7 linked regions of the Homo sapiens genome follow. The protein of the gene in region 2 purifies or fractionates together with the protein of the main gene of each other region. This does not show direct contact. Each region holds a gene or a part of one and is shown on either strand. Other genes may lie near its edges. The genes, in order: ZNF451, PALS1, GAK, MILR1, RPH3A, TWF1 and AMOTL1.

What was found.
Region 1: the proteins of PALS1 (region 2) and ZNF451 purify together in Homo sapiens (affinity purification with western blotting; one study listed by BioGRID). This does not show direct contact.
Region 3: the proteins of PALS1 (region 2) and GAK purify together in Homo sapiens (affinity purification with mass spectrometry; 2 studies listed by BioGRID and IntAct, with this or other methods). This does not show direct contact.
Region 4: the proteins of PALS1 (region 2) and MILR1 purify together in Homo sapiens (co-immunoprecipitation; one large-scale study listed by IntAct). This does not show direct contact.
Region 5: the proteins of PALS1 (region 2) and RPH3A purify together in Homo sapiens (affinity purification with mass spectrometry; 2 studies listed by BioGRID and IntAct, with this or other methods). This does not show direct contact.
Region 6: the proteins of PALS1 (region 2) and TWF1 purify together in Homo sapiens (co-immunoprecipitation; one large-scale study listed by IntAct). This does not show direct contact.
Region 7: the proteins of PALS1 (region 2) and AMOTL1 purify together in Homo sapiens (affinity purification with mass spectrometry; 3 studies listed by BioGRID and IntAct, with this or other methods). This does not show direct contact.

Annotation. Positions count from the first base shown.
Region 1 is NC_000006.12:57,152,688-57,156,187, reverse strand, and holds part of ZNF451 (E3 SUMO-protein ligase ZNF451), read right to left. Parts: intron 2,328-3,500; coding exon 2,141-2,327; intron 1-2,140. UniProt on the Homo sapiens protein: E3 SUMO-protein ligase; has a preference for SUMO2 and SUMO3 and facilitates UBE2I/UBC9-mediated sumoylation of target proteins. Plays a role in protein SUMO2 modification in response to stress caused by DNA damage and by proteasome inhibitors (in vitro).
Region 2 is NC_000014.9:67,317,935-67,321,434, reverse strand, and holds part of PALS1 (protein PALS1), read right to left. Parts: intron 1,206-3,500; coding exon 1,038-1,205; intron 379-1,037; coding exon 176-378; intron 1-175. UniProt on the Homo sapiens protein: Plays a role in tight junction biogenesis and in the establishment of cell polarity in epithelial cells.
Region 3 is NC_000004.12:848,777-852,316, forward strand, and holds the end of GAK (cyclin-G-associated kinase), read right to left. Parts: intron 3,199-3,540; coding exon 2,974-3,198; coding exon of another isoform or gene 2,771-2,973; exon of another isoform or gene 2,533-2,770; intron 2,309-2,532; coding exon 2,160-2,308; intron 1,293-2,159; coding exon 1,116-1,292; intron 999-1,115; coding exon 897-998; 3' UTR 501-896; downstream 1-500. UniProt on the Homo sapiens protein: Associates with cyclin G and CDK5. Seems to act as an auxilin homolog that is involved in the uncoating of clathrin-coated vesicles by Hsc70 in non-neuronal cells. Expression oscillates slightly during the cell cycle, peaking at G1.
Region 4 is NC_000017.11:64,462,615-64,466,114, reverse strand, and holds part of MILR1 (allergin-1 isoform Allergin-1L precursor), read right to left. Parts: intron 664-3,500; coding exon 574-663; intron 1-573. UniProt on the Homo sapiens protein: Immunoglobulin-like receptor which plays an inhibitory role in degranulation of mast cells. Negatively regulates IgE-mediated mast cell activation and suppresses the type I immediate hypersensitivity reaction.
Region 5 is NC_000012.12:112,875,248-112,878,747, reverse strand, and holds part of RPH3A (rabphilin-3A), read right to left. Parts: intron 3,070-3,500; coding exon 3,007-3,069; intron 2,107-3,006; coding exon 1,882-2,106; intron 1-1,881. UniProt on the Homo sapiens protein: Plays an essential role in docking and fusion steps of regulated exocytosis.
Region 6 is NC_000012.12:43,793,223-43,796,317, forward strand, and holds the end of TWF1 (twinfilin-1), read right to left. Parts: intron 2,929-3,095; exon of another isoform or gene 2,753-2,928; intron 2,599-2,752; exon of another isoform or gene 2,580-2,598; intron 2,534-2,579; coding exon 2,363-2,533; 3' UTR 501-2,362; downstream 1-500. UniProt on the Homo sapiens protein: Actin-binding protein involved in motile and morphological processes. Inhibits actin polymerization, likely by sequestering G-actin. By capping the barbed ends of filaments, it also regulates motility.
Region 7 is NC_000011.10:94,869,356-94,872,855, reverse strand, and holds part of AMOTL1 (angiomotin-like protein 1), read right to left. Parts: coding exon 3,383-3,500; intron 2,168-3,382; coding exon 2,061-2,167; 3' UTR 1-2,060. UniProt on the Homo sapiens protein: Inhibits the Wnt/beta-catenin signaling pathway, probably by recruiting CTNNB1 to recycling endosomes and hence preventing its translocation to the nucleus.

The sequences.
Region 1 (3,500 bases), on a different chromosome or scaffold from region 2:
ACATTAAAAATGTAGTGGCTAGGAATCACATTTTCTTTTTATGGTAGTAATAATAAAAAATAGCTATTATTTGTTAAATAGCTAAAGTGCTTTATATACTGTGCTAGACACTTTACATACATCACTAACTATTACAACCATATAAATACAAAAAAATGAGGCTCCAAAAAAGTTAAGTAACATGCCTGAAATCGCGCTGCTAGGAAACAGCAAAGTTAGCATTTGAACCAAAGCCCATATCCTTCTTCATGCAGTGCACAATCTCTGTATGTCACAAAAACTAAGAATAAAGTACACATGTGCCTCCAGAGAGTAGTTAGTTCAAATGAGTACTGAGTATGAGTGATTAAAAAAAAAAAAAAAAAAAAAGAATACCTAGAACATAAGAGTCATTTGGAAGGGCATAATCAGCAGATATTAATAACCTGTATCTTACCTCCAACTGTAATATACCCATGCAAGTCTACTCGTATTCACCTCTCATTCCAAACAGAATATGGTTTTGCCTCTGCAAAACCATAACAGGTTTCACATTTGGAGTTATAAAAGAAATGTTCCCAAAAGCAGAAGCATAAGAGAAGGAAAGGGAGGTTGGCCTTGTGCGGCAAAGGTAAAACTTTATCTTATAGGATATTAAGTAGATGTTGAGAACTGGGAAAGCGATGGCAAAAGAGTAGAAGAGGTGTTTTGCTTTTTGTTTGAGACGAAGTTTTTGGTCTTATTGCCCAGGCTGGAGCGCAATGGTGCAATCTCAGCTCACTGCAACCTCCGCCTCCTGGGTTCAAGCGATTCTCCTGCCTCAGCCTCCCGAGTAGCTGGGATTACAGGCAACCGCCACCATGCCCAGCTAATTTTTGTATATTTAGTAGAGATGGGTTTTCACCATGTTGACCAGGCTGGTCTTGAACTTCTGACCTCAGGTGATCCACCCACCTCAGCCTCCCAAAGTGCTGGGATTACAGGTGTGAGCCACTGCACCCAGCCTGTTTTTTTTGTTTTTTTGTTTTTTGTTTTAAGAAAAAAGAAAGCCACAGATAGAAAAACAAGTGAAAACAAAAATTACAGAATAGGAAGATAATACTCAGAACTAAGGCATGACATAAAGACACAAGAGTTCATTTTCTTTTATAATCTTCCATCATTACTCCACTTTAAAGAGTATAAAGAGCACAGATTACTGATTCCTAACTTTGCAGAAGTGAATTGATCCACTGTAATCAGTGATTACAGCAAAATTCTCCAGAATGAGTTTTCAATCAAAATGTGCTTCCAAATATATTGAAAGAAAAAAAAAATCTAGGAGGCAAGCAGACTTGAAAGCTTTAAAGGCACACAATAAAAATGCCAAAAAGCCACTATTTTTCATTAAGGTAATTCATTAATATCTTCAAACCTTATTCATGAATTTAAATTATTAGGATATTTAAACATTAATTATTCTATCCATATTTCTTTACTTCAGAGATTATGAAAAAGGGGGTTATAACTCAGTGGTAGAGCATTTGACTGCAGAAATTATGAAAAACGAAAAACAAAACTTCTGAATCCTTAGAATTACATCTTTTCTTATATACTAGGAAGTGAAATTGGGTATCAGCACTCCTTTCATTGAACAATCTCACAAAGGTACAGAAGAAAGTGCAAGTCCCAGCAATAAGATAGGATGTACCCACTTCTCTAAGGACCTAAAAGCCTATCAGCGTTTTATTTTGTCACTGTCAACCTCTTAAATGATCACCTTTGTTATTGCTTTCTGGTTTTCACCTCTAAGCGCACTGCTTTCTAAAAAACTGAAGGTCAACTTGGAATTTCAGAAACAAAGTGAAGATCTGAATTCTGAGCTTTTAAAATTGTAGTAACATACTGTAACACATGAATATATGTTTTATATACATCAATATAGATTTTATCTACTAGATCAAAAAAAGCTCCAGAAAATTATTATGAATTCATCCTCCTTCTAAAACACTAAAGAATGAAAGTGAGATTTTTTTAAAAAAGATAAGTAAGATAGAAGTAAGAGAACATGATGGTTTAGCAAGCAGGCAACAGTTCACTAGCGGACAGCAGTTTATTGGTTTCTCTCAGCAGTGAAGTCTCCTCCTCTTGGGTGGTTTGCACTGTGACTGCAGCTGCGTACCTTTGGTGGTATCAGATATGCTATTTAACAAGGCACACATCATATCTCCCTCTAAGTGGTGAGGGTTTAGTATATGAGCTGGCCTCTGAGTCTTCTTAAATTGATTCTCTAGCTCCAGAAAACCTTGATCTCCTGAGAGGATGGTGAAAGGAATTTGCTTGGGTAGTTGTTCATCTAGACGGCCAGCCTAAGTTAGAACAAATGGCACAGGTTGATAAAAAATCAGCATGAGTTTCAAAACAAGTTACATCTATTTCAGAATGAACACATGCCTAGGAAGGTATATTAAGCTTGTTCCCTAGTCCCTACCAAAGTATGACATAAAGATCTCCTTCAGCTGGGTGCAGTGGCTCACGCCTGTAATCCCAACACTTTGGGAGGCTAAAGCAGGTGGATCGCTTGAGGTCAGGAGTTCGAGACCAGCCCGGCCAACATGGTGAAACGCGGTCTCTATTAAAAAATGCAAAAATTAGCTGGGTGTGGTGGCATGCGCTTGTAATCCCAACTACTCGGGATTCTCCAGGCTGAGGCTGGAGAATCACTTGAACTCGGGAGGCAGAAGTTGCAGCCAAGATCGCGCCACTGCACTCCAGCCTGGGCGACAGAGTGACACTCCGTCTCAAAAAGGAAAAAAAAAAAAAGAGAGAAAGAAAGAACTCGTTCATAAATGAAATACCCCACATTTAATCAAATATAAGATGCCATTAAATTATATAAGCTATTTAATGTGCCATGAAAAGAAAAAGCCAAAATGGAAGTCCAACAGACCTCACATAAGGTTGAAATGCCAAAGGGCTATACGCTCAATATAAGGGTAAATAAGAAATAAATCTGCCATAGAGAAAAGGTAAGCAAGGCAATTTGCATGATTCAATCTTGGCATTAGATAGACTGAAAAAGAAATCTTTTGTTGTTTAAACCATAAGCTGCAGTCAACAAGTTTGCAGAGTAAATTCACATTATCAGTGTGACATGTAAGTCCCCAAGCAGAAAATTTAAAGTGGGTCTCAGTTTGGCAGTTTCTCTAGGTACCCAGCAGAGACAGAAGCAAATGCAAATTCTGTCTAGGCCAACAGTGATTGTTAAGGTACCTCTTAATTTTAGAGATATTAAAATATGAAAGTGTCTTAATATATATCAAATACAGTATCATCAGCAGGGCGCAGTGGCTCACACCTGTAATCCCAGCACTTTGGGAGGCCTAGGCGGGCAGATCACTTGAGGCCAGGAGTTTGAGACCAGCCTGGCTAACATGGAGAAACCCCGTCTCTACTAAAAATACAAGTATTAGCTGGGCATGGTGGTATGCTCCTGTAGTCCCAGCTACTTGGGAGGCTGAGGCACAAGAACCATTTCAGCC
Region 2 (3,500 bases):
GGAAACTGAAAGAGATTTAGCAACCTGTGTGATTTCAGATAGCAAATCAGTGGGAAAAACCGTATGAGAACTTAATTAGGTCGCGCTGTTCTTGGACCAAAATATAGCTTCCACTAGATTACTCTATATGACATTCCTTCTAAGTTCAAACCCTAAAACAAAGTTCTAGCTTTACCTGTGTACGAAGACTTAAAAGACATATTTTGCCAGAGTTGATCACTTGCCGTACAGAATCTATGCTAGTTCCATACAAATTCTTCTCAAATTCACCATGCTCAATGAACTTTCCAGCTGCTATGTCTGCCTCGAATGCTTGCCGCGAAACAAAGTGGTAATCTCTACCGGCTACTTCTTGGTCTCGCCTACTCCGGGTTGTATCTAGGCAAACAAAATCAGATAGAAATAACAGGCATGGCTTAGAGTGAGGACAGGGGATAATTCTGCTAGTCAGAAAGAATTTCTATTTTGTAACACAGATTATAAAATAATAAACTGAGAAAATGCTAAGTGCCTACATGTTTAACATTGTTTTTATTTTTTGTAGATTGAAAAATGAACAAAAATGAGTTTGTAGTATCTTAGTAATAGTTATATTTATCTCAATACATTTTATGCTTACACTTCAAGTTACTTCATCCTGCATTTAAAACACTACTACTCATCTTCTCCTAAAGTTTATCTCCATAAGATTAGGTACCATATAATCTTATAACTTCTGTTTCAGATTATGCCTAAGTTTCTATCTTCTGTATCACTTTAAAGCAGCAGGAACTGATTCTCTATGGAACAGGAAATTATAAGGGGCCCAAACTGAAATTTGTTTAGAAAATAATCAGTACATACTTGAAGGACAAATTTAAATTTCTTAATAATGACTATTTTTAATTTAAAAATTGTCAAAATCTTTGGTTAAAGTTCCTCTTTCACTGACAACAGTGTTTTAATGAAATGAATAAAAAATTTCCCTACATGATATAGTTAGGTTCTGAGCTGGTAAATTGAAAAGCACAGGAAAATGGGAATGCATTCAAACTTACGAGGAACTGCAGATGCAAAGCGGTCCTTTTCTTTGTTCATGAGCCTCTGACGCAATTCATTCTGGCCACAGTTCTGTGGACCAATCAAGATGATAGGTCTCTTCCTATTTGCTGGCTGATGATAAAGTGACATTTCCTCATAGGTTAAGATCTCCTCGTTGTCATAATCTTTGGGAAAAAAAAGTTAAGCTCTTCAAACAAAATTATGGCCATGTATTAAAGATATAAATACTCATAGATCTTCACCCAAAATTAGACAAAAGCACAATTTATTGTCATTACATCCTTGCTAGGGTATCATGAAAATGAATCAGACAACAATATAATACTCCTTCTATTAATTTTTATCTCATTTCATATTTGAAATAAAAAATTCATGCTTGAATGTCTAATACAATATAATTATACTGATTCTTACATTAAACAGCTAATTTGCAGTCAATACTTTGAATAAGGATGCGGTACCAGGGAATGAACTAGTAAGAGTAATATCCGTCATTTTTGAAGAATGCAGATATTAATATTCTACTTAAGAAGGTTGTTTTAAGAATCAGACATAATGTATACGCTGAATACAATGGCTAGCATAGACCGACATTTACATATAGTGGCTACAACCAGTGTTATCAGAGAAAGCTGGAATACTTTCCTATAGTTCAAGCTCGTCCAACCCGTGGCCCATGAGCTGCATGCAGCCCAGGACGGCTTTGAATGGGGCCCAATGCGAATTTGTAAACTTTCTTAAAACACTGTGAGATTGTTTTGCAATTTTTTTTTTTTTTTTTTTAGCTCATCAGCTATCTCTAGTGTTAAGTGTATTTTACGTGTGGCCCCAGACTATTCTTCTTCTAATGTGGCCCAGGGAAACCACAAGATTGGATACCCCTGCTGTAGTTGTATAACTTGAAAACAGGCCATATGCATGCTATCTCCACTTTCTGCATTTATGTTTACTCTACTCTGGAATGCTAACCCAGAGTCATGAATCAAAATGAGGTATAAATTATGACAGGTGGGGTAACATTCCTAAAGCCCATAATCCAGATGAAACCAGAGCTGTCAAGTGGTAAGAACAAAAGCAGATAACTAGTAGCCTGCCAAGTCCTCACTCATATTACTTCTCCTGACTGTGAAGGAGCATCAGATGTGAAGTCAGACTCCCTCAGCTCTATTTCCATGAGGTTAGGGGACCATCTTAGGCTTGTCAATGCTCAGCACAGAGCCTGGCACAGAGCAGGAGCTCAAACTACACTTGTTTAAATTCCAGCTCAACCAATCATGTATTAGTTGTTAAGAATTTCAGCAAATCACTTTAATATCTAAACTTTTTTTTTTTTTTTGAGACGGAGTCTCGCTCTGTCGCCCAGGCTGGAGTGCAGTGGCGCGATCTCGGCTCACTGCAAGCTCCGCCTCCCGGGTTCACGCCATTCTCCTGCCTCAGCCTCCCGAATAGCTGGGACTACAGGCACCCGCCATCACGCCTGGCTAATTTTTTGTATTTTTTAGTAGAGATGGAGTTTCACCATGTTAGCCAGGATGGTCTCCATCTCCTGACCTCGTGATCCGCCTGCCTCGGCCTCCCAAAGTGCTGGGATTACAGGCATGACCCACCGCGCCCGGCCTAATATCTAAACTTGAATCTATTACTCTGTAACCTCAAGGAGTTTGTGAGAACAACATCATATAGTTACTGCCCTGGAATACAGCAGTTATTATGAATTGTAGTTATTTATTTAAAAATATTCATGATGATGACATCATCATAAACAGCAAATGTAATTCCTTCTCCTCTCAAAATGATTTTCTCTGAAAAATCTGAGTTTATTCTAACACGTATAATCAAGACTGGTAGCATTTTAATTTATAGACTCAGTGTGTATATCCATAAGGTTCAGATTTGCCACGTTTTCTACAGTACAGTAGCTCTTAGAGCTGGACTAGTTAACTTCAGTCTGTTTCAAAAAATAAAAGAGATATTAATCACAAATATAGAGGATAAAATTTAAAACTCATTAAATCTTTTTAGTTACATAATCTGTCAATTAGCATTAAAGGATATTTATTTTAGAAAAAAATTTATTAAAGTTGATCAAACCTCATTTAGCTTTTATGGAATATTATAATGATCTATAATGTTTTATCTTTATTAGTTTAATGTGTGCTGCTCCCAAATATTTCAAATTCTTGACAGAAAAGCCTTATAAATTACATAAGAAGGAAAGCCTTTGCTTTATTATTTGGGTTGCTTCTAATGTGAACCAAACAGAAGTAGCAAACTCAAATGCCCATAAAAACAAACTAAGGAGGTAATAAAATCAGTAAATCAGGTTGGGTTAATAAAACACTGGGAGTGGTAGAGACTGTTAAACTAGACACCAGGTGCTTGATATAAGAGCAACAGTCATCACTCAGGTCCAGCAGACTGTTGTCACCTAGGAATACTAGCCCAACATTATCAGAGCT
Region 3 (3,540 bases), on a different chromosome or scaffold from region 2:
GTCATTATTCTCTGAAAACAGGAAGAGCCTGGCGGTGAGTTCAGGGCTATGATTCAGGGCCTCCTCGAGTCTGCTGTGGGGTGGGGGCTCACCATGGTCACCTTCTCCTTCCAGGGGCCCCTGGTCCTCCACCAGCCCGACAGCCCGGAGGCCACCTTGGCCCTGCGGGGATGGCACAGGGGCAGTGTGGAGCCCACCCTTGCTCCTAGGTCCAGGGCCCAGGGGCAGGGGCCAAGTGGAGAGGAGAGAGGAGTCCCGGGGCCGAGGGGAGGAAGGGGGTCTGGGGACTGCAGGGGCCCCCGCCCTTGGCCTTGCCCTGGCTGGGCTCTATGGCCCCCTGAAGAGCTGCCCAGAGCCGCTGCAGCCCCGGGACCCGCTTCTCCTCTCCACTCGGCCCCTGCAACAATCCAACCACGGCAAGGTTGCTGAGGAAGCACAGCCTTGTGCCCCAGCTGGTGAACGGCACCTGGGCGAGTGGATCCACACTGGAGACACAGCAGTCATCGGAAAATAGTTTAATTCTGTACAGACAACCACGGGACTGATTACAAAGTGCGGTGCAAACACCAGGGCCCATGAGCGCCAGCAGCGTGGCCCACCACGTGCCGGGGCTCCAGAGGCCACGCCCGAAACACCAAATAAATCACAGACGTGACAATTGCGGGAGGAGCATGAATCAGCTGTTCCTTCGGGAGGAGAAAAAGGAAACAACAATCAGAGGCTTTGGAATGCTTTCTCTTCATGTGCCTGGAACGCTGGGCGGGCGGTGACCCGGGGCTCGGAGCCCCACCCTGGCCACACCTGCTGTCGCCCACGGGGTCCTCACGGTGGGGACCCAGGTCCCACGACGGCTCCCAACCTGTGGAGCTGTGTGCGCAGCCACCACCACTGCGGCCTCAGAAGAGGGGCCGGGAGCCCTGGTTCTCAAACTCCGACCAGGCGTCATTCAGCTCCATGAAGATCATCTTGGCGTGCTGCTCGTACGGCTGCCCCGCAGCCTATGGGTGACAGGCGGTGTAAGCGCCTCTTATAAGCATGCGGGGGCGGGCGGGGCAGGACCCCCCCCCCGCCCCGCCCCTGAAGGCCTCAAGCGGCCGCCTGGCAGCTCTGCTCACCTTGTCGGGGTGCACAGCCAGCACCGCGCGGCGATAGTGCTTCTTCACTTGCTCCGGAGCCACCAGGTCGGCCATGCCCACGGGCGTCCAGCGGCTCTCCCCGTCCCACAGCACTGTGTGCAGCGTGGACAGCAGGGCCCGGATGTTCCGCTCCTTGCCCTCAATCCAGTCCAGGAGCTGCGGGAGACACGGAGCTTGCCGAGCCCTGGGCACCTGCCTGCCCTCCTCCTCTGCACCGCGGAAACTGAGGCACGACGCTGAGGAAGTGCCTGGTCACGTGGGGTGGGCTCAGCCCGGCTCACAGACACTGTCCCACTGCACGCCCTGCCCTCAACTATATAGAGCCCACTCCGGACGACACAGGGCCAGGTGGTCTTCATGTTTCAGGGCCTGGGGCCAGAGGGACCCTCGTCTCAGCCAGATGTTCACCGAGGACACAAACCCTGGTTCTGGTGGTGCAACCCCTTGGCCCATCCCAGGCCCCAGACTCCGAGGGAGAAGGGGATGGTCCCTGGTGCCTGTGAAAGGACCCCAAGGTCACAGGCGCATGTGGCCTGCAGAGCTGGGCATCGGCCAAGCCACAGAGCAGGGCGTGTCTCAGGGCCGGCACAGTGACAGCCTGACCGCTGCATCCTCACCCCCCAGTGAGCGTCCTGGGTTGGGAGGCTCAGTACCCAGAGCAGCCCCCAAGAGACGCCTGCCCTCAACAGTCTCTGCAAACACCCCGGGGCACTCACTCCTGTAACGCCCGCCCACCCCACCCCCACCAGCGCTGAGCCATCTGGGCACGTGGGGAGCAGCACAGCCTGGGGCCTGACTCTGCCCTGCCCCCCTGGCCTCAGGCCACCCTGTCCTTGAGGGCTGCCAGGCCCATCGGCAGTGACAGGTCCCTGTCTGGAGACGCCGGCTCCATGTGGTACAGCAGATGCTCCAGGGGTGAAAGGTTGCTGTCTGGAGACGCCGGCTCCATAAGGCACAGCAGATGCTCCAGGGGCCATGGGTTGAGGCCTCTGGGCTCCCAGGAAGAGCTGCCCACCCACCCACCTTCAGCTTGAGTGGGTCCGTGTCTTTAGCCAGGTCCTGCTTCCTCATCTCTGCAATGGTCTTTGGCCCTTTCTTGTCAGACCTGGAGGAGAAGCCTTGATTGGACAACAGATCTTCAAAGTCGTTCTCAGAGACTTTTGGCTTTTGAGCTAGAAAAGAACAGAAACTTTTTTTTGTTTGAGACAGGGTCTCCACTCTGTCACCCAGGCCAGAGTGCAATGGCGTGATCTCAGCTCTCTGCAGCCTTTGCCTCCCGGCCTCAAGCGATCCTCTTGCCTCAGCCTCCCAAGTAGCTGGGACCACAGGCATGCGCCACCATGCCTGGCTAATTTTTACATTTTTTGTAGAGAGGAGGTATCACTGTTGCCCAAGCTGGTCTTGAACTCCTGGGCTCCAGCGATCTGTCCGCCTCAGCCTCCCAAAGTGCTGGGATTATAGGCGTGAGCCACAAAGCCCAGTTAAGAACAGAAACTTTCTGCAGAGACACACAGGCCCAATTCCACCTGCTGCCCCCGGGAACAGGGCTACCATCCTGATGCCTCCAGAGTAAAGAAGAGGGAAGACAAGACAGGGTTGCAAAGGCCATTTGTTAAAAACAGGTCAAGAAGGTGTCACTGGAACAAGAGGGACCCAGAGGCCTGACCCAGAGAGAGACCAGTGAACACACATCGGAAACCGCGTCGTTCTCTGAGTGGCTTGGCCGTGCCTGTCCCAGGACTGGGCTCTGAGATGAAGAAAACAACATAGGTTCTACCTTTAGCCAATTCAGGGAGGTCTCTGCAAACTCCACAGCAACAGAGAGTGGGGGACTCACCAAAGCTGGGTGCGCGGACCCCCCGCTCCTCCCGCGCCCCGATCACACTGAAGTTCGAGGCATAGTTAGGCCTTGGCTGTGTGCAGGCTTTGGGGGGCGGCTTGGCCTGAGGGGGCCATGAGGCGCCCTGGGCTGGCGGCCGACTTGTCTGCCAGGAGCTGCTGCCTTTGGGCGTGGTGGCCGTTTTGGGAATGAAGCCCCCAGGAGGGAATCCAGCTGGTGAGCCTGTGGAGATGGAGATCGGAAACTCGGCATCTGGTTGTCCATGAGGGGCAACTACTGTTTCTATAACGCAGAGCACCACGTATATTGGAAAACATGCGCTTGCAAAATAGAACACCGATCACTCGAGGCCGTCCAGAGGTGCCGGCTCCACCCACACGTGTGAAGGTCTCCAGGGGCTGGAGCACAGGCCAGGTGCTGGGGCGACGGGAACACTCTGGATGGAGGGCAGACACCAGGACAGGGCAGCTGTGGAGGCAGCACCCCACCCCCAGGAGCCAAGGCAGACCCAGGGCTTGTCCACGGGGGTTGGGGCAGTGTCCCCACGTCACCCCCAGGAGCCAA
Region 4 (3,500 bases), on a different chromosome or scaffold from region 2:
CTCTCTCCTACCGCCTTGGGAAGAAGGATGTGTTTGCTTCCCCTTCCACCATGATTGTAAGTCTCCCGAGGCCTCCCAAGCCCTGCGGAACTGTGGGTCAATTAAACCTCTTTCCTTTATAAACTACCCCATCTCAGGTATGTCCTTATAGTAGCATGAGAATGGACTAATACATCAGCCGAGGCGCTGGGTCTTGTTTACTGCAAAGCAATATGCAATGCCTGCTTTGAGAGGTGACCGTGAAAGACTGTGAAACACAGTGTGGATCATTCTGAACAGATGTGAAAAATCTCCAAGATACGTTGTTACATGAAAAAAAAACAAAATCATGGTGTAGAAAGTCATACCTACAATATGCTACAATCACTACCATTTGTTTATTATACACACAGAATATCTGTGGAAGGATTTAAAAAACTGGTTATTACCCCTAGAAAGTGGGACTGGGCATCAATAGACATTGAACTCTATCCCTTTTGCTCCACCCCCCACTCCCGTATGTCTGTACAACCTTAACAAAATAAAAAGACAAAAACCTGAAACCACCCAAAACACGCAACAAAGTTCTCTTACTTGCTTGTTTTTCAAGGATATTTGCATAGATTCCAACTTCCATGGCTGTGTCTCCACGGTCCCTGGGCACATTATTTCTCATAGCTTTTCCTACGTAAATAGGTAGGAATCATCAAATTAAACCAATTCAGCCACATTTTTCTCATCTCCTCGGCCAAGGAGCAGAATTCCCTCAAAGTTCTGAAACAGAGAGTGACTTGCTCCAATGGCCCAAACTGTTGTCTAACAAAGGAAAACTATAGACTCAACAGGGAGTCTAGACACCGCTCCTCCAAGCCAGGGGCTGTTCTGATTTATTTTCCTGGCCTTCAGAGGAACATGCTTTGCCTATCAGATTATGCCTGAACTAGCCAGACTTATTTTCTTTCCTTCGCTGAAGAGAATAGTCTGTGGAAGCTTTGTAATATCTTCAAGAGAGTGTAAATGGCCTATTGAATTCTTTTTTTTTAAGATGGAGTCTCGCTCTGTCGCCTGGGCTGGAGTGCAGTGGCACTATCGTGATCTCGGCTCACCGCAACCTCCGCATCCTGGTTTCAAGCGATTTTCCTGCCTCAGCCTCCCGAGTAGCTGGGATTACAGTTGTGCACCACCATGCCCAGCTAATTTTTGTATTTTTTTGAGACGGAGTCTTGCTCTGTTGCCCAGGCTGGAGTGCCATGGTGCAATCTCCGCTCACCGCAACCTCCGCATCCTGGTTTCAAGCGATTCTCCTGCCTCAGCCTCCTGAATAGCTGGGATTACAGGCATGTGCCACAATGCCTGGCTAATTTTTTGTATTTTTAGTAGAGGCGGGGCTTCACCATGTTAGCCAGGCTGGTCTCAAACTCCAGACTTCAGGTGATCAAAGTGCTGGGACTACAGGCATGAGCCACTGTGCCCGGCCAGCCTCACTGAATTCTATTGTAGCTCCAGCCAGTAATCAAAAATATTAATGCCACTTTTGCAAGAACCTGGACTTTTTATAAGAAGGAGAAACATGTTTTTAAGACATATGAGATGTGGGCCAGGGTGCAGTGGCTCACGCCTGTAATCCCAGTGCTTTGGGAAGCTGAGGTGGGAGGATCACTTGAAGCCAGGAATTCAAGACCACCCTGGGGAACATAGTGAGACCTTGTCTCTAAAAAGAATTTTGTAATTAAAAAAAAAACAAAAAACTGTAATCCCAGCACTTTGGGAGGCTGAGGCAGGAGGATGGTTTGAGTCCAGGAGTTCAAGACTAGCCTGGGAAACATGGTGAAACCTACAAAAAAAAAAAAAATTAGCCAGGCATGGTGGTGCGCGCCTGTGGTCCCAACTACTCAGGTAGCTGAGGCAGGAGGAGGCCTGGGAGGTCAAGGCTGCAGTGAGCCATGATTGCACCACCGCACTCCAGCCTTGGGTGATGGAAGTGAGATCCTGTCTCAAAAAAAAAAAAAAAAAAAAAAATGTCAGGCGCGGTGGCTCACCAGCCCCAGCACTTTGGGAGGCCGCGGTGGGCGGATCACGAGGTCAGAAGTTCAAGACCAGCCTGGCCAACATAGTGAAACCCCATCTCTACTAAAAATACAAAAATTAGCCTAGCGTGGTGGTGGGCGCCTGTAATCCCAGCTACTCAGGATGCTGAGGCAGGAGAAACGCTTGAACCTGGGAGGCAGAGGTTGCAGTGAGCGGAGATTGTGCCACTGCACTCCAGCCTGGGCAACAGAGCGAGACTCTGCCTCAAAAAAAAAAAAAAAAAAAAAAAATTAGCCAGGAGTTGTGGTGCATACCTGTATTCCCAGCTACTAGGGAGGCTAAGGTGGGAGGTTACAGTGAGCTATGGTGGCACCACTGCACTCCAGCCTGGGCAACACAGTGAAGCCCCATCTCTAAAAAAAAGAAATGAAATAAAATAAAATCTTAAAGATGCATCAGATGTATAACTTGTGACCTCTGTGTTCAAGTTTTATGTCAACTGAGTCCCTGACTTCTCTGAGTTGTGACTCTCTGGAGATGGTTCTCAATTGGTTCTCTTGCCAGTTCTGACAATATCTCCATGGCCCATTCCACAACTCAGAACACTGAGGCTCAGAAGCAACAGCCTGAGGGGCTTGTCCAACAGCCCTCAGCTTGCTGATGGGGGCCAGTGCTGAGACCCAAACTGTCTTTTGTGTAAATCTTCATATCCTTCTGCACTCGTGTACCAAATGAAAAAACCACTTTGAAGGCTTAACCAGTGGTGGCCATAAGACGTGAGGAATGAAAAGCAGTAACTGGGCTGAGTGCAGTGGCTCATGCCTGTAATCCCAGCACTTTGGGAGGCTGAGGTGGGAGGATCGCCTGAGTCCAGGAGTTCAAGACCAGCCTAGGCAACACAGTGAGACCCCGTCTCTAAAAAACATTTTTTTAAAAAAGCTGTAACTGAGGCTTCTAATAACATTGACAAGTTTTCTGCTGGATGTAGCACTTAAGGTGGGGAAGAGAGAAATGATGCTTTTTTGTTTCTGTTTTTGTTTTTTTGAGTCTGGTGTGTTTAATAAAGTTTTTTAAAAAATCTTATAGTAGAATAGATTATACTTCTACATTGAAAATCTAGAAAGCATAGAAATGTAGAAATAAAAAATATGTATATATTAGGTTGGTGCAAAAGTAACTGTGGGCCGGGCGTAATGGCTCACATCTGTAATCCCAGCACTTTGGGAGGCTGAGGCGAGCAGATCACCTGAGGTCAGGAGTTCAAGACCAACCTGACCAACATGGTGAAACCCTGTCTTTACTAAAAATACATGGTGGTGGGTGCCTGTAATCCCAGCTACTCAGGAGGCTGAGGCAGGAGAATCGCTTGAACCAGGGAGACAGAGGCTGCTGTGAGCCGAGATTGCACCACTGCACTCCAGCCTGGGCAACAGAGCGAGACTCCATTTCAAAAAAAAAAAAAAAGTAATTGTGGGTTTTGCCATAAAAGTATG
Region 5 (3,500 bases), on a different chromosome or scaffold from region 2:
TGTTCCCTCTGCCTGGAATGCTCTCCCTCTAGATCCTTACATGGTTGGCACCTTCTCGTTATCCATATCTCAGCTTAAATGTCACCTCCTCAGAGAAGCCCTCCTTGATCACTCTCTAAAGTAGCTACCATCATAGTCACTCAATGTATTTTATTTCTTTTATGGTGCTCTGTCTCCACTCGAAATGAATTCGTTGGTATGTTAACTGCCTCTCTTCACTGGAGTGTTAGCTCCAGGAGAATAGCTGGCATGTCTATCTTTTTTTTTCCATGATATCCCCAGCATCTAGAACAGTTTGAGGCACTTTGTACATGCTCAATAAACCATTGTCAAATATAGAGATGAGTGAGTGTGTGAAGAGTATAGAGTATGGAGACAGGTTTGTAATAAACAGCCGGGATAAGTTAATAACAGGGACAGACATGAGGCTGGGAGGACTCATCTATGCTTGGTGGGTTGGGGACATTTAAGGCCGATGGAAGGAGCAGTAGCCAGTGTTCCAGGGAAGGACCAGGATGAGGGAAGGCAGAAGGGTGCATAGACAGGGCATTTTCAGAGCAGAACCAGCCTGTGGCTGACAAGATGGGTGGACTCCTCTCCTTTCTCCTGAGACCGCAGACCCATGATCCATGGGAGTGCACAGGGCACGAAGGGGGACAGCTGATCTTCCATGCAGTCCTGGCCTCTGATCTGCTACAGCTGTGTGATTGACCACCAGCCCCTCCTTGAACTGACTGGATGAGCTTGGACAAGTCCCTCAACCTCTTGGAGCCTCATCTCTCAATCTGTAAAATGAGAGTTATAAAAGCAACTATGCCCAGGTTCGTAGGGAAGATTAAATAGGCAAATGCACAGAATACACTCAGAATAGTGCCCAGCACAAAATGAGTGCCCAACACGTGTGGACTTTTATTACCTCTGATGTCCATACGCATAACAACAATTCCTCGTGGGTGTTTAGCACTATGTAATAATGATTTCCATTTTATGAAGCACCTTCCCAGAAGGTATCTCAGTTTATCTGCCCCTTAGCCTGTGGGGGAGGTGGTGCTGTGCTTTTCATTTTACAGTGAGGAGAGATGACATGGCAGGTCAAGGCCGTGTTGCTGGTCACAGCCCTTGATCTTTTCCTTCTGTGTGGATCCAGTTTTCCAACTTGATCAGAAACAACTGGTAATGTCCCCACCCACCAACACATATTGGATGCAGACACTTGCCAATTCTACCTCTCTCCAGCTCACAAAGTCTGCCCCAGGCACACCAGGGTTAGCGGGGGGAAATGCCACTGGTGTGTGTGTGTGTGTGTGTGTGTGTGTGTGTGTGTGTGTATACGTGTGTGTGTGTATACGTGTGTGCGTATCCCTGGGACTTGGGGCCTGGGTGGGATAGGTACATTGTAGGCATTCAATAAGGATGCAAGAGAAAATGCCCAGTAAATTTTAAATCATGATTAATAAATTACTTTTAGAAGATATACATTAAAGAGTTTTAAAAATTGTTAAAATTCACACCTAGGAGCGAAATTGCTGAGTCATATAATAATTCTATGTTTAACCTCTTGAGGAGCTAGTAGACTGAACATCAAGAATGTAGTCAATGCCACCGAATTGCAATCTTTAAAATGATTTACATGGTACCATTGATGTTATTTGTATTTTACCACAATAAAAAATATATGTAGCACTTACTCTTTAGGAAGCTGATATTTTGTGAATTTAGAAACACAAATCTGTACTTCTATCACTTGGTTAATATGTTTATTAGGTCTGGTATATTAGGGGTCTGGGGATAGACAGGGCTGTTCCTGAGCCGTTCCTGTTTTCCTGGGCTTGGCTCCTGAAGTGATTTTTCCAAGATACCTCTCCCTTAGGCACCACCTACTTGCTTCATCCGAATCGTAGCTGTTGGCTTCCTCTTCCTCCTCCTCTGGGGGTGGTGGCTGGCGGGCTGCAGCAGGCTGGGGGGCAGCTGCAGATGCTTGGGAATAGGGTCCGGAGGGGTGGCTCATTCGGTCCTCTCTGGCTCCAACTGCTGGGTAGCCCCCGACTCCCCCTGTTCTCTCCTCTCGGGGTGGGGCAGTGGTCCCAGGGTCGCTCGGAGCCACCTCTGCAGGGAGATAAGGACAGGAAACATGCAGCTGCATCCCTGTTTCATAACAGCAGCACCTAGGGACATTTTCAAAAGATGCGGATTCCTGGCTTCACCCGGAATCAGTGGATATGCAGTGGGACCTTGGGATCTGTGTTTGACAATAAGCCCCTCGAGCTGATTCAGATGTAAGCAAAACAGACCTTGTGGGGGTACAAATCAGTGGTGTGGACTCTGGAGCCCAGACAGCCTGGGTTTGAATCTTGGCCATGTGACCTGCGGCAAATTACTTAATGTCTCTGAGCCTCAGTTTCTTTATCTGTAAAATGGAAATTATAATATCTGAAGCTCCTCAAATAATAGTATTTTTTAATGAACAAATACAGGTGTAGCACTTAAAACAGTGCCTGATGCCTGAGAAAGCAAAAAGTGTCTTGTAGCTGTGACTGGTACATATGATGGTGATGCATATTGATCATATATATTAATAGCAACCACTGTCGCTCAGTGTGGGCTTATTATATTCCAGGCCACCCACCAAGGTTTTCTATGTGTTAGTTTGTTTAATCCTCCCAACAATTCTGTGAGGTAGGTCCTAGTATTATTCCCATTTTATAAATTAGGAAACTGAGGCTCAGGGAAGCTAAGTAACTTGTCCAAAGTCACACAGCCAGGAAGTGAAGGGGCAGGGATTTGAACCCAGGTAGTCTATGCTCTAAACTATATGTGTTGGCATTTCTATCTAGCTAATCTTAGTACGGACTATCTAAAGTTTTAGACTCGGGGGAGCTGTTTAGATCTCATCAGACAGGTCTCAGGGTGCAGGCTGAGTCACGTTCTGGCAGCTGCCTGCTCTCTCTCAGGGAGGTAGGGGAGAGGTGGCCACTTGGGCAGGCATGGGAGGAAGCAGATACTTGCCTGGCTTCTGATCTGGAAAGCGTCCTGCTGGCCCAGGACCCGGTCTGCTTCCTCCTGGGGTCCCTGAGCAGGGAGAGGAGACAAACAGAGATGCAGCAGAGAGGGTGGCATCATTTGGGGGTTCACCTTTTCCTTTTCATTTCACAGGTGTGGACACAGGCCCGAAGGCAGAAAGGTACCCGAGGCTGCAGAAACAGTCCCACTGGGAGAGGAGCTTTTGGATTTAGAAAGACTTGGATCCAAGCCCTAGTGCTGTGGGAACTTCCTGAGCCTTGACTTGCTCCTCTGTGAAATGGGGGTGTTGGTCCTTGAGGTGGGAAACACTGGCGAATGAGGTGCCATCACTTTCTGCACTGGGTGGGTAAGATGCTCCCTGCCTCCTCCTCCCACTCCCTGCCCAGCTTCTTGGCCCAGGGAATTACTGGTTGTAAGGGTCTTAGAAGAGGTTAAGATTTAGTTGTGGCTGCAGCTTTGCAGAAAGCCCAGCATGCTCT
Region 6 (3,095 bases), on a different chromosome or scaffold from region 2:
GCCTCGGCCTCCCAAAGTGCTGGGATTACAGGCGTGAGCCACCGTGCCCGGCCCAACGATGAGCCTTTCTAAAGCTATTTCAGCATCTTTTGTAAAACTGCTACCAAAGACATCCATCTTGTCACATCTCTAATAAAAAGGATTTGAAACCAAATCGCACACAGGAGTGCATTCAACATTTTTCACATGAATGAATACAGTGGCAAGTCTGAGTTTAGTGTCAAGTAAATCAGTACTGGGGTGCTTCTGTTACAGAAAATGAATAACTCATGGCATTTTTATTATTGCTACAACAGTGGCAAATTTTTAATCTAAGCACTCTATAGTCACAATTATTCTTGCCTAGGTTTAAAGCTACTTAAAATCCTTTTTGGACTTAGGCAGACTAATTAACAAATAAATGAATGGGATTCCTAACCTAACACCAGGTACTGAATTATGAAACATTACACAAACAATTAAAAAAACTATAGTAGAAAAACCAACAGAACATACACAACTTAAAGAGAAAAAATTTTTATTGTGATATAAAATGCACTTATAAAATGTCCACCAGAAGGCATGTAATTCTTCACTGCTATATAAATTTACTGGGAATATGTTATTCACCATCTAGGTATGATACTGCCAACTAAAACATACTGTAAACGATGAGTTATACTCTATAACAAATGCATCACTGATTTTCAGCAATCATTGGTTTAATAATAATTAGTTTAAGACTATAATCACATCTATATTCTGGAATGTCCATTTACTTTAATGTAGTGTAGTGGAATTTAGAGTATAATTGCACATAGATGGTACAGAAAAACATTCACTTCTAAATTATTTTATACCTTCATGACAGGTAGTCTTCCTGACTGAAAATAACAGCTTCAGCTATGGTCTGCTCCAGGATTCTTAATGCAATAATTTGGGTGTATGTGTGTCTGTCTACGTGTACACCCATGGAACAACTTATATCTTTAGTAAACAAGTGCAACATTATTGTCAGTTATTTTGCATGTTTAAATATTATAGTCTGATTATTTGTAAACAAACAAAACCCCAAATACTCTAAATTCTATTTTAAAAATCTGTCAACCCACAATTATTCTAATATGCTTTACTTACTCGAACACAAATTTCTGAAAGGTGCATATATTACCTTAGATAATAAGGTTTAGAAATGAGTGCTTCACACTATGAAATGTGCATTTCCGATAAGTGATTTATGCAGCATAAAGTTTAGATCAAGAAATTACAAATCCTGGATCCCCACAGTTCATTTAGAAAATGCCTCAAAGTTATGGCTCTTGCAGCAGGTTTAACAGATTAAACATTAAGTGTTCTAGCTCCCTCTATTTCAAGTATCAAAGAAATATGAGGCTCAAAATCTCTCTAGGTTGTAACTGATAATGCAAAGCATTAGAAAACAGTTAAATGTGTTTTGAAATACAGTATTAACTGAGATTATTAAGGTGTTTATCTACGTTAGCCTGTTAAGTACCAGGACTTTAAAGTAATTTTAAATCTGAGTATTTGCTCGGAAGTGATAAAGAACACAATTTGCCCATAAATGTATGGTTTTGGAGAAAAAAGTCAATCCTGATTTTTAAAACTCAACATTTTTTGTTTCCTTTTGAATGATATTAATTTAAATTTCAATCTGAACATAAATGTTTGGCCTCACAGAGCATTAGAAAGATAATTTACTAAGGCTGTTTAAAGTCTTTCAATGTCATCAGAAATCCTGCAGTATAGAAAATATCTGGTACCCTTAAAGTTTCAGAGTGAGCTGATCTGCAATTTTAATGCTATTAAAAAAAAGTCAAATATAAAAGACTGCTGCAATATAAAGCACTATTTCTAAAAGTTGCAGACATGATCCTACAGTCTGACAGAGCTAGCACAGCTACTCGGAGTAAGCAACTTGCGGCCTTTTCCAAGGCACACTAAGTTTCCAGCTTAGAAAATACTCTAGCCTGGTCCTTAACATATTCATTAAGTAATATGAATATTTTAAGGTCTTTCTGTCCCACAAGAAAGTAGTAAGTTTACCCTTTGAGACATCAGACTTTCTAGAACTGGCCCAACTGTATAAAATTTTAAGAAGTATTTGAAGTGTGGAATCAACGCTATGAAAACAGTGTGACAAAATTAAACATTATGTTGAACCCTTTTCTAGCTTTAACTCAAAAATAGAAATCATGAGTCTTCTATAACATTAATTTTAAAAACACACAGAAGTGAAAAGTGCTATTTTCCAAAAAGTACAATTTTTTTCCCTACTTTATATCAACATGGAATGATTTCAGTTCTCCTGTACTAAAAGCTGGACTTTTAAAAAACTAGTATTACAATGTTTAATGTGATGACTTTAATCAGTAGTAGCTTCAGTTTCCGCTGGGCCCCTAATTAGTCTTCGAATTCCTCTTTTTCCTGCAGGACCTTTTGGTTTTGCAAAACTTTGCTTGTGTGCATGCTGCTTGGGATGTACTTCTTCATAAAGGAAGTCTGCAGTCAACTCATCCCCATTGTCTATCTCGATCTGTAAAAGATAAAATTAGAAGCACAACATTCAAAACCTAATACAAGCAACAAGCTGGTTTTCAGGTATATGAATGCTCACAAATAATACCCTTTCCAGTAAGGCAGAATCAAGGACCATATGTAAACAGTTTCACTTTCTTCTTTTGGGGGAAGGGGCTAAATGAGTTACTTGAATATATAATCAGCTACATTCACTTCCTTCTTGGTTCTTTCTTAGTGCTCCAGTTTAAATAATGTTTAAAAGTAGAAGCCACCACTACATTCTCAAGTTGCTATGATACACTATTTATTCAAGGAACATTTACTCATGACCCTTTCATCACTTGGGTCACTTGAAAGCCCTCTACAAGAGAGGTAAACAAACCATGGCCCGAAGGCCAAATCTTGCCCAAGGTAAGATTGTTTTACATTTTTTAAGGGTTGTTAAACAACAATAAGAATATATGACAGAGATTATATGTGGCTTGGCAAAGCCTTTACTTACTATTTGGTCCTCTGTAGAAAGTCAGCTGATCCCTGCTATAGAAGGTGCTACCCATGATAAAGTGATTGATTCTTAG
Region 7 (3,500 bases), on a different chromosome or scaffold from region 2:
CCACCCATGTCCATCCTCAACCCTTTCCCCCATGGATGAGGCCTCCTGTGCCCTCTTCCCACACCCTATGGCATGGGGTGAGCTCCATGCTCAGCCTCTCAGAGCTCCTCAGTTTTCCTGTCTGCACAACAGGTACTCCGATGCTCAGTGTGAGACTAGAGGAGGTGATGAGCAGGTGGCACAATGTGCAGTGCCTATGGCCAAGCAGAGCCCCAGAGGGCCAGTTCCCACTCCTCTGTCGTACTGGGTGGCACAGAGGCTGGCCAAAGCCACTGATTTCTTCCCTTCCCTCTCCAGCTTACACCTCTTGTCTTCCTTCTGTCACCTCAATTTGGGGAGGCTATAACTTCACCGGGGTTACACACCCAAGACCAGTCCATTTTAGGATCCAAGCAAAGTTTCCTGAGTAGCACTCTCTTGAGTGTTTCATTTAGAAGGTACTTGGAAGAGGTACCCCCCTTTCTTTCTTCCTCTAAGTAAGCATGAGCAAAGGGAACTGGGAAAACAGCGATCCAGCTGACCTGGAGGTACAAAAACATCAGGACCCTGTAGGAGCATCTCTCTGATGGCCCGATGAGCTTCTCCTCTTTTCTAATCCAGCATCTCTTAGATTTGTAAAGGAAGCCAGTGTCTGCAGAGCTGAATATGCAATGTCACAGCAGAGGTCTAATGGACCCACCACCTAACACACTCCTGCCTCTTTTCCGTGGCACTTCTGTCTCACTTTGAATAAACTGCCTCAAAACTGAAACCCGGAAAAACCTGACAACACTGTATATACAACTGGCCTGGTAGGTTACAAAAGAAGTTCACAACAGAGGCAACCTGGTGCCACGGAGGTCTGGATGCTGATCGAGAGCAAGCAGAGGCGTGCGCGGGGGAGGAAAGAGTGTGAATACGCTCATGAGCCTCAATACAAGAAGCTATACGGGAGGCTGGTGAGATTCTGGAAACCACTGAGACAACTGTCTGTAAATTGTCATCTGTTTCCTGGAGTGCTGTCCTAAGTCTTCCCCAAACAGAGCAATGGAATTTGGAAATGTCAAGCTCCTTGCAAGACAGCCGATGTGAAAGACAAAAAAGCAAGTGCCACGATCTTAATGCAATATGTCACAGGGACCCACGGAATCTCCTGCCTCCTCAAAGCTTGCTTAGTTCACAGTCAGAATGAGGTTCGCAGCTGCAACCCAGCTATGCAAAGGTGAAGCAGCCAGGAAGTCGGCACGTGGCTTTGTCCTACTGGTCACTATCAAACACAGTAGGAATGATGACAGTTCAGGTACTGGTCTCATAAATCCCATACCTAAGGAATTCTGCTATGTCTTATTAAAAAGAAAAAAATGAAGGAACAACAAAAAATTAAAGACTGTAAAGCAGAGACAGAGATGAACTCAGAAGTTAGGATGGATGGGGACCGAGATCATAATCTATCCTGTTTAGAAAATACTGCAGAATTCAGAAAAGCTAAGAAGCCCAATCATCTCTTGAAAATCCAAACCAAACAGGTAATTAGGTGAAGACCAACTTTCATATTCCCCTCGCCCTCGATGCTTCTTCTCACTGCCACACTCACACTCACGGGACACCCCATGGTTGGCACAGGTGACACTGCATTATGCCAAGACAGGCTCTCAAGATTTCCTGGAGGCTTTTCTTAAATCAAACATGCTAAGAGGCAAGGAGAATGGGGGTATTCCAAGGATGATCCACATTTGGGTTTATCTGTTTATAATCAGAGAATGGGGGTACACAGGCCCTCCCCAAGAGATACATTTTCTGTACAATGAAAAATTCAGTTTCCTATTTCTTAACTTTGTTTGCAAACCTACACGCCTCTTCTCTCTTCCACCATGTGTAATAAAATCCATCGCATTCTCTTCTATCTTCAGTCATGTAGTTTTTGTGTTTAACATTTATAAAATGTGTTCTTATGAGTCTGAAATCTTTATCAGTTCAAATCATTCCTGATTTCCCATCTACAACCTTCTAGGTCTTTCTTCTTTCTCTGCCGCTTTCCTTGTTTGTCAGTGTTCTGTACTGAAATTCCACAGGGATGGCAGTTAGATGAGGACTTCCATCATCTCTCCATCAGGGAACTCGGGCTTGTGCAGCAAGCTGCTGACCCGGCCTCTGTGGTCAGGCGACTTCCCATGGCCAGGAGAGTTCTCTGCCAAATAGAGGGGAAACATCAGCTGCCCATTCCTCAGGAGGGGCATAGGCTTTCCAGGTTCTCTAAAATGGACCCACGTCCGATACCACTGCACACCCAGGATTCTCACCACAGGGCATGTGAGATGATCCAGCCCACAGTGGGAACATGCAGAATGACTGGGCCAGGATTCAGACACAAATACAAACCAGGATGGTGAAGGGAGAGGATTCAGAAGGTGAGGATGACAGTGGGACTCTGTACAGGAGCCCCTCACACCCTCTACTCAAAACTATCAGGTGCATATTCTGAGCTAGGCACTTTTGACAGGTTCTCTGGCTTACTTGGAAAAGAATCACATCTTTAAAAAGTGACAACATTGTATTTACTTGTCTACTTTGAAAAATGAAATAAACAACCCCCTTGGAGGAAACAGTTAACTTAGGGCCCACAGAGCCTGCACCTCCTCAAAAGAATTCCTGAAAAGGGAGGTCCCCATGACCATGATTAGTCTCAGGTTTTAGGATGTGGAGAAGCCAATGGTAGGCTGGGTACTCTCTGGCTACTTAAAGCCTTACCCATTTAAGAACATTTGTGGGATCCCACTGACCATGGCCATGGTACTCCTTTGCTTAAGAGGAGTGCCTTAAGAGGCCAGGTCTATTCTTACCCAGGACACTTAGGGACTCACTGCAAAGATCACCTCTCCCAAGTTGTCTTCCCGTAAATATTTTAAACAGCTCGTTAGTCCTGGCCCAAGTGCTGTGCCACACGTTAACCGACTCTGCAGGTCAATCTACCTTCTCCTTCCATCACAATGTCCTCCACTGAGGCCAGAATCCCTGGTAAGTTAGAGCCCTGAAGGCAACAGTGAACTTGTGCCTTTGATGTACCTGGTGCCTAATTCTGGCTCCCAAACATACCAGAGGGCATTCAGCCCCTTAGAGGGTCTGTTGTCACTCCATCCGGGGAAAGGTTAGTTAAAAAGTATGCATTGCCAGGGTAGTCTCAAGCCGTGCACTCATTTCAAATAGTAATAAACTAGATGTGTCTATATGCATATTTATTCCCGTAATAAGAAAGGGCACACATATCCTAAGTGCATTAGAATAGCATCCCCATAGAGTAAGAGCTGATGGGTGCCCCTGCTTCCTCTCTAGCTCAACAAAAGATTCTCTTAGGCCAGACAGTTCCACAGTTTTCAGGGGCATCAAGGTGGGGTAGCCCACATACCCAGTTTCTCTGCGGTCCCTTTGGCCGCTGGGTGTTTCAGGACGGGGCTGTGAGCAGGGGTCGTGCTCAGCCGGCCGCGGCTGGGAAGGGAGGCCATGCTGGGCCAGAAGAGCTCGGC